Linked DNA regions of Homo sapiens. The protein of the gene in region 1 interacts with the protein of each later gene in a pairwise test. Each region holds a gene or a part of one and is shown in the gene's direction. Other genes may lie near its edges.

Region 1 (4,090 bases):
CAGGAGAGGATCCACCTGGTCCTTGGTGACTGCACCCATTCCCCTGGAAGCCTGCAAATTTCTCTGCTTGATGGGTGAGGCCAGAGGAGCAGCTTATCCTGCCCAGAGATGACAGGGTGTGATGCCGGATGGATGATTGGAAAGCTGAGACAATGAGAGAATAGATGAGTGAGAGGCTGAAAGGGTGGGAAAATGGATGGGAAGGAGGGAGCGTGGAAAGATGGATGGATGGATGGATGGATGGATGGATGGATGGATGGATGGATGGACAGATGGTTAGATGGTTGGGTTGATGGAGAGAAGGATGAATAGATAGATGGATGGATAGATAGATGATAGATAGATAGATAGATAGATAGATAGATAGATAGATAGATAAAGTAGTACTTATTCCTTCTTAGACCAAGCTAACCAATTTTATGCTGGATCTAGCAACAAGAAATTGGAGTTTAAGCCCTGCATATTACAGGGGAATGGGGATAGAGGGCTTCCTGTGTGAACCTGGGTAGTGCTTCTCCAATTTAGTTCTAAGCTTACTTATCTGCAATATGGAACTGCACTGGAGTTATTGATAGAACCTACCAAGATAACAGGTGTGAAAGTGCTTTGTCCCAGTAAGGGGTAAAATAGACGTGGATCCTAACTAGGTTATTTATTTCAGTTACCTGTCACATGGGGAGACTGTGTCAAACCTATTACGCAAAAGTTGCCCACGTGGTTAACTTTTAATGAACACATACATTGGGCTTCACATGTGTCATCTCATTGGATCATAATGACAACTACATACTAAGTAGTATCCATTCATTTATGGACTCTGCAAAGCCTTATTGGCACCTGCTTTTTCTGAGAACCATGTGTTTATCCTACACATACCTGTGTGTTCACTGCTGTACACAAATGTAACTCCCTTTACATAAGACCCTTGCTGTTGGCCTGCACGTGGGTGTAGATAGACAAGGCTCGGCTTTAGTGACTGAGTGTTGAGACTGTGGGGTTCACAGTGGCCCCCTCTGGAGACTTCTCCACACCATCTCCAGGTCCCTGCATCACCCATGACTTTTCTCTTTCAGACTTGGCCCCCTCCCCATTCAAGGTCTTCTGGACAGCCTCACAGGGATCTTGAATAAAGTCCTGCCTGAGTTGGTTCAGGGCAACGTAAGTAGGCAAGGTGGGGATCCCCTGATCCTCAGGTTTTAGAGCTTCTTGCACTAAAACAAAGCCCTGAGCTAAGTGGGTCCGAGTCCCTCAATTTGATAAGTAACTTCCATTCATCAATCTATTTGTCCATTGATCCATCTGTCCATGTTTCTTCTTTACATCTTTCCAAATGCATTGATGAGTCTCTGCTCTAGGCCAGGCCCTGCTTGTCCACACTGAAGCTGAAATGGATTGGCCCCTGTTCTGAGAAATTGGAGAAGTTCCCTGTCCAGCCTTCTATGGCCACAGACAGTCTTTCAACCTATGCTTGGGTGTCTCCTATAACCAGGGCACTCCACTCCACTTAGAATCAGATGTGATGTCACAGGGTGAACACTGGGCTTGTTGTGTGATTTGGGGCCCTTCACAACATCCCTCATGCCTCCAGTTTCTCCTCAGGCATGTGTGACCATTGATCTGTGGGATTGCTTAGAATCACTTTCACACAGAAAAATGACAGGAAATTTCCCCAGAGAACCCCCACTAGGGATTCTGCTGCTCCAGGGTGCCACTCTGCCTAACTCTCCTCTCTGCCCCTGGCCAGGTGTGCCCTCTGGTCAATGAGGTTCTCAGAGGCTTGGACATCACCCTGGTGCATGACATTGTTAGTAAGTACCTGCTTTCAAGCCCTCTGTCCCTCTCTGCAGGAGCAGCAACTTCCCCCAAGGAGTTTTTTCCCTGCACACCCTAGGATACTAGGTCCCTCTGGCCTCAACTCTCTCTATTTTGGGCTTCATTTTCCCCCGAATAATCCAGATAATTTTGAGATAGACACCGTGTCTCCTGCCTCAGCCCTGACACTGAGGACAGCTGGGCTGGTTGGTAGAAGGAGGCCTGGCTTCCTCCAAGCATGCTGAACACAGTCGGATCTCCAGAGGCCTCCATTCCCTGGCCCCCCACCTTGAGGAATATGGACTCCTTCACGTTGAGATCATAACTGTCGTCTGTTTTTTTATTGCTTGTTTGTTTGTTTAGACATGCTGATCCACGGACTACAGTTTGTCATCAAGGTCTAAGCCTTCCAGGAAGGGGCTGGCCTCTGCTGAGCTGGTAAGTGCCCTTCCCCACACCCCAGGGTTTTGGGGGCTGGCTGTTCTTCTCCTGGTAGAAGGCAGACGGGAGCTTGGGACAATGACATCCAAAGAAAGAGACAAACATCTACAGAGGTACACACAGGGATGCACAGAGAAATCCACAGAAAAGCTGACAGAGGTGGAAGGATGCAGGCAGCACAGCAACACAGCTACCAAGAGAAACACACACACAAATGCCCAGACACATGGCCACTGATACAGATGCACACACTCTCACACCAGCACACTCACACACATGCACACATTGGTGGACTCACCACACACAGACACACACACTCTCACCCAGCACCCTCACACATATGCACACATCAGTGGACTCACCACACATAAGTACACGTGGATACACAGACACACTCACTCAAACACATGCTCACAGAGCCCTGACTCCAGGCCTGATGGCTTGCCCAGGGTCTCAGCCTCCTCCTGTCCCTCTGGGGCATGAGTTTGATGATGAGTCAATATCAGTAACGCTCACTGACCTTGAGTCTCCATCCTGATTAGGGTCTTCCCCCAACAGAACTATTTCTTGCTGCTCAATCCATTTCCTCTGGCCCAGCTTCCCAGTGCTCACAGATGGCTGGCCCATGTGCTGGAAGATGACACAGTTGCCTTCTCTCCGAGGAACCTGCCCCCTCTCCTTTCCCACCAGGCGTGTGTAACATCCCATGTGCCTCACCTAATAAAATGGCTCTTCTTCTGCATCAGGGGCCTTGTCATCCTTCACCATTACTTGAGGGCTCCTGGGTTGGAAACAGCCCTGGCCTGGGTGGTTGGGCCCATAGCATAGAGTTTGGCACTTACTTTGTAGATCTGAATAGTCTTGAGCAGGTCAGGGAGATGTTCAAGTGTGTGTGGATTTCAGAAGGCTTTCCCAGGTGTCCTTAGAAAGGGGGAATAAGGCATTCAGGGTAGATATAATACTCCAGGTACAGTTAATGACATACAAGTTTGCCGCACCACGAATGAAAATGGCAGATTTGTGTTAGGGAAATGCAAATTAGAACTACAATGAAGGCCAGGTGCCGTGACTCCCGTCTGTAATCCCAGCACTTTGGAAGGCCAAGACAGGCAGATCAGTTAAGGGCAGAAGTTCAAGACCAGCCTGACTGACATGGCAAAACCCTATCTCTACCAAAAATACAAAAATTAGCCAGGGGTGGTGGTGTGTGCCTGTGGTCCCAGCTACTCGAGAGGCTGAGGTGAGAGAATTGTTTAAGCCCAGGATGTGGAGGTTGCAGTGAGGCAAGATCATGCCACTGCATTCCAGTCTGGGTGACAAAGTGAGACCCTATCAAAAAAAAAATTAAATTTAATTTTTAGAAACACCCAGTAAAATGTCATCTCACACCAGTCAGAACAGCTATTATTAAAAGGTCAAAAAATAGCAGGTGCCAACGAGGTTGCAGAGAAAAGGAATGCTTATACTGCTGGTGGGAATGTAAATTAGCTCAGCCACTGTGGAAAGCAGTCAGGAGATTTTTTAAAGAACTTAAAACAGAACTACCATTCGACCTGGCAATCCCATTACTGGGTGTATACCCAAAGGAATATAAATCCTTCTACCAAAAAGACACACACACATTCATTGCAGCACCATTCACAATAGCAAAGACATAGAATCAACCTAGATGCCCATCAGTGATGGACTGGATAAAGAAAATATGGTACATATACACCATGGAATACTACACAGTTGTTAAAAAATGAGATCATGGCCTTTGCAGCAACATGGATGCAGCTGGAGGCAATTATCCTAAGTGAATCAATGAAGGAACAGAAAATCAAGTCTCTCGTGT
Region 2 (5,184 bases), on another chromosome or scaffold:
GATGGTGTTGTATGTCATTTCTGCCCTTATGACATTGGTCAGTACCCAGTTACATGGCTTTGCTAAGATGCAAATGGGTTGGGAAGTATAGTCCCTGGCTGAGCAGCCACTTAGCACAACTTATACTGTGGAGGAGAAGTGTAAATCACTGGTGATCAGTTAAATTGACCATCTAGCTAAAGGTATAATTCTCCTTTGTTTTTGTGATGTGTAGTCTAAGAATACCCAAAACAAATTTTTGAGAGTTGCCCATGTTAAGAAACAATAAAGGATAGTACTTTTTTCCTGTTTTCTTATGCTTATCATACATTGATTTGCACCTCTGTGACTTTGAAATGTGTGTCTTAATTTGATCAGTGAATTTTTTTTTTTTTTGAGACAGGGTCTCACTCTCATCCAGGCTACAGTGCAGTGGCATGATTATAGCTCATCATAACCTTTAACTCCTGTCCCCAGGCAATACTGCCAACCCGGCCTCCCAAAGGCATAAGCCACCATGCCCAGCCTACAATTCAGATTTTTAACTTTTTTTTTTTTTTAGCAAAGTCCCAAGAGTACTTTTTTTTTTAAATTTTGTTTTAATTGACAAATAATAATTGTACATATTTATGGGGTACATAGTAATGTTTCATTACATATAATGGGATTAGATCAGGGTAATTCGCATATCCATCACCTCAAATATTTATTTCTTTGGGTTAGAAACATTCAATATTCTCCTTCTAGCTATTTGAAATTATATAATATGTTATTGTTAACTGTAGTCATCCTATAGTGCTATAGAACACTGGAACTACTTCTATCTAGTTGTACTTTTGTGTCTTTTAATAAATCTCTCCCTATCCCTCTTTTCCCCTACCCTTTGCAGCCTCTACTGTCATCTGTTCTGCTTTTTACTTGTATAAGATCAACTTTTTTTAGCTTCCACATATGAGAGAGAGCATGTGGTATCTTTTTAACTTAATGTCTTCCAGTTCCATCCATGTTGCTGTGAATGACAGGACTTCATTCTTTTTTATGGCTGAATTGTATTCCATTGTGTATATATACCATATTTTCTTTATCAGTTAATCTGTTGTTAGACACTTAGGTTGATTCCATATCTTGACTATTGTGAATAGTGCTGCAGTAAAATGTGAGTGCAGATTTCTCTTCAATATACTGGTTTCCTTTCCTTTAGTTAAATATTCAGTAGTGGCATCGCTGAATTGTGTGTTAGTTCGATTTATAGTTTTTTGAGGAACCTTCATACTGTTCTCCCTAGTGGCTGTACTGTTGACATTCCTACCAATAATGTGTAAGAGTTCCCTTTTCTCTTCATTCTTGCCAGCATTTGTTATTTATCTTTTTGATAATAACCATCCTAACTGGGGTGAACCTTGTTGTGGTCTTCATTTTCCTGATATGTGTGCATTTCCCTGATGATTTGTGATTTTGAGCATTTTTTCATATATTTATTGACCATTTCTATGTCTTTTTTTGAGAAATGTCTGTTCAGATCATTTGCCGATTTTAAAATCGGATTGATTGTTTTTTAGCTGTTGAGATGTTTGAGTTCCTTCTATATTCTGAATATTCATCCTCTGCCAGATGAGTAGTTGTATTTCCTCCCATTCTGTAAGTTCTCTTTTCACTCTTGATTGTTTCCTTTGCTGTGCAGAAAAGTTTTCCAGTTTGAGATAATCATATTTATTTTTGCTTTTATTGACTGCACTTTTGAGGTCTTATTCATGAAATCTTTTCCCGACCTATTAAAGAGGTTATCCTTTTCCTAATGAGTGGTCTTGTCAAAAGTCAGTTGGCTATAGATAACATGGATTATGTTCTTTTGTTCTATGTGTTCTATTGATCTATGTGTTTGTTCTCTTGGTCAATGGGTCTGTTTTTATGTCAGTTCTGTTGGTCTGTGGGTCCGTTTTTGTGCCAGTCCATGCTTATTACAGCTTTGTAGTATATTTTGAGGTCAGTAAGTGTGACACCTTCAGCTTTGTTCTTTGCTCAGTATTGCTTTGACTGTCTGGGGTTGTATGTAGTTCTGTACAAATTTTATGGTTTGTTTTTAAATTTTTATGAATAATTTTATTGGTAGTTTGATAGGGATTGAATTGAATCTGTAAATTGCTTTGAGTAATTTTGTCATTTTAACAATATTTGTTCTTATATAAGCATGGGATGTCATTACATATGTATGCTCTTTGGTTTCTTTCATCAGTGTTTTTTTTTTTTTTTGTAGAGGTTTTTCATCTTCTTGGTTAAACTGCTTCCTAGATATTTAAAAAAATTTTTGTAGCTGTGGTTAATGGGATTGCATTTTTTATTTTTTATTGTATGTGTATAGAAACACTACTTATTTTTGTGTACTTATTTTGTTTCTGGCAGCTTTATTGAATTCATTTATTGGTTCTAAGGGTTTTGGTAGAGTTTTTAGGTTTTTGTTTATATAAGATTATGTCATCTGCAAACAGGGACAGTTTGCTTCCTTCCCAATTTGGATACCTTTTATTTTTTTCTCTTGCATAATTGCTCTGGCTAGTACTTGCTTAACTGTCTTTTTTTTATTTTTTATTTTTTTGTCTTGAGACAGGGTCTTGCTCTGTCTCCCAAGCTGGAGCGCAGTGGTGTGATCATGGCTCATTGAAGCCTTGAACTCCTGGGCTCAAGCAGTCCTTGCAACTCAGCCTCCCGTGTAGCTGGGACTGCAGGCATGTGCCACTGCACTCAGCTTCTTATTCTTAATGTTTATCAAAATGGGGGTCTCACTGTGTTGCCCAGGCTGGTCCTGAACTCCTGGGCTCAAGCGATCCTCCTGCCTTGGCCTGCCAAAGTACTGAGATTACAGGCATGAGCCAGTGTGCCTGGCCTTTAACTGCCTTTTTTCCCACTTGAAGATGCTTTGCCTTTATCTCAAACTGACCTCATTGACTGGCTTTCTCTTAACTACTGTTTAGGGCAAAGGTCAGCAAACATTTTCTTTAATAGATCAGAGAGAATAAATATTGTAGCTTTGTGGGTCACATAAGGCCTCTGTCTCATCTTTTTTTTACAATGTAAAAACCATTTTTCATTCACAGACCTATAACAACACAGGGATTTTGTCCGTTGGTCACAGTTCATGGACCCTTAGCTTGAGGTGTCCTCGTTGTAGTTTGTCTTCCACATTTAGTTACAACTTTGTATTTCATGGTTTTTTTTTTTTTTTTTTTTTTTTTTGAGACAAAGTCTTGCTTTGTCGTTTAGGCTGGAGTACAGTGGGGTGATCTTGGCTCACTGCAGCCTCCACATCCCAGGTTCAAGTGATTCTCCTGCCTCGGCCTCCCAAGTAGCTGGAATTATAGGCACACACCACCACACTCGGCTGATTTTTGTATTTTTAGTAGAGACGGAGTTTCTCCATGTTGGCCAGGCTGGTCTCGAACTCCTGACCTCAGGTGATCCGCCCACCTCAGCCTCCCAAACTGCTGGGATTACAGGTGTGAGCCACCGCACTTGGCCAAAAAGTTTTTGATTGTTTTGATTTGTGTCCGTTAGATTCTGTTAGTAGAGTGGAGGGATGGCTTAGGTAAAGTTCCTGCCATCAGAGATACTCTGTTTCTGTTGTAGGATTCAGAAAAGAAAAAAAGAACAGGAAGTTTTCTTCTTTTACATACATACTTTATTTTCTTTAAAAAATGTGTTTATGAAAATTGAACATTAAACAAGTATGTTATGGGAAGTGGGTCTGGCTATAAGGAGCTAAAAACAGTTATAAAATTCTCAGTTTTGTCATCTTTGCCCAAAATAAATCCAACTAATTAGTGTTAAAGTAGGTGCAGCAGAGCATCCCAGAAGTAGTCTTGTGGCCTCCCCAGGACAGAACTCCTCCCCACCCAACTGTTTGTGAAGACACCCTGCAGAGGTCCCTGATGAACTCCTTGTCTCTGGCTGCTTTTCTGTTCTTGCTTTCTTTAGAGAATGTATTTTTCCCTTAGCCCTTTGAAAGCTTTTGAGACACACAGTTGGTATGCCAATTATAGCATTCTTTATCCCTGAGATCTGGGGGATTTCACGGTCATAAATACACACTGTTTTGAATATATAAATATTTTTCTGGGGAGAGTTGATTGTTTTCATCTTAATATCAAAATGGTCAGTGACCTGAAAGAATTTACTGTCTATCCATTCATTAAAGCAGTTTTGCAACAGTAGTGTTTTACTCTACCTATGATTAAGATTTGAACTTTGGGAAACTTTTTTATTTCTTGGTAAAAGATGTAAATTTTTTGGAATGAAAAGATTTCAGTCTAAACCAACAATTTATGATATTGCTCTCTATGAATCTCTTACTAGTGACTAATAAATATTAAGGCACTTAATGGATTCACTTTAGCTGTATTTTTTCATGTGGATATGTGTAAATACCTTGCCATAAGAGTAATAAGCAAAATTGATTTAGTATATTTTTGAACAAATGCATTTTTGCTAGACCTTTAAAGTTTAAGGTTTCTATGGGAGAGTCCAACTATGTTCTACAATCTACATTTTGGATTTTTAATTTTTACTAGTTTACTGCTTATACAAATCTGAAAATTTAAAAAATTAAAAAACAACCTTTTTTTTTTTTAAATTCCAGATGGAGATCTTATAACAATTTTTGATAGTTCTGACCTTTCCTTTGCAATTCAGTGCAGTAGGATACTGAAACTGACATTATTTGGTGAGTAGTAAACTTTCTAATGAATTTACTATTTTATTCATTGTATTTTAAAGATGTTTGGCTTTTTTCCTTTTAAAGACTCAGGTAAGCAATAACTTATTCAAATATTATTACATTTATTTGTGTTCAGGTAGTTGTTTTAGATTACTTGAAGCTTATGGCTGTGTATGTTTTTAAGAAAATGATAGAAGTTTAATTCAGTAAGAACAGAGTGTTAAGTATGTTTTTTTTGAAATCAGGTATAACTTAGGTATCCCTGGTGCAGTATTATAGTTTTAATTTAGCTGTATTAGAATTTTTAAATTGTAATTATCTTCCTTCACATTACAGTATGTTGTTACTTATTATCAGGGCTTAACATGTAAGTCTGATACTTGAAACCAGTAGTCGCCAACCTTTTTGCACTGGAAACTGGTTTCGTGTAAGACAGTTCTTCTATGGAAGGGGGCAGGAGAAGGTTTGGGGATGAAACTCTTCCACTTTGCATGTGC

What was found. The genes of interacting proteins can lie anywhere in the genome.
Region 2: the proteins of BPIFA1 (region 1) and TFG interact in binary tests that used the Homo sapiens proteins (3 or more experiments, as listed by UniProt).

The regions. Positions count from the first base shown.
Region 1 is NC_000020.11:33,240,312-33,244,401, forward strand, and holds the end of BPIFA1 (BPI fold-containing family A member 1 precursor), read left to right. Parts: coding exon 1-74; intron 75-1,073; coding exon 1,074-1,158; intron 1,159-1,744; coding exon 1,745-1,808; intron 1,809-2,175; coding exon 2,176-2,216; 3' UTR 2,217-2,250; exon of another isoform or gene 2,251-2,358; intron 2,359-2,773; exon of another isoform or gene 2,774-2,795; 3' UTR 2,796-2,995; downstream 2,996-4,090.
Region 2 is NC_000003.12:100,715,366-100,720,549, forward strand, and holds part of TFG (protein TFG), read left to right. Parts: intron 1-4,609; coding exon 4,610-4,693; intron 4,694-5,184. UniProt on the Homo sapiens protein: Plays a role in the normal dynamic function of the endoplasmic reticulum (ER) and its associated microtubules. Required for secretory cargo traffic from the endoplasmic reticulum to the Golgi apparatus.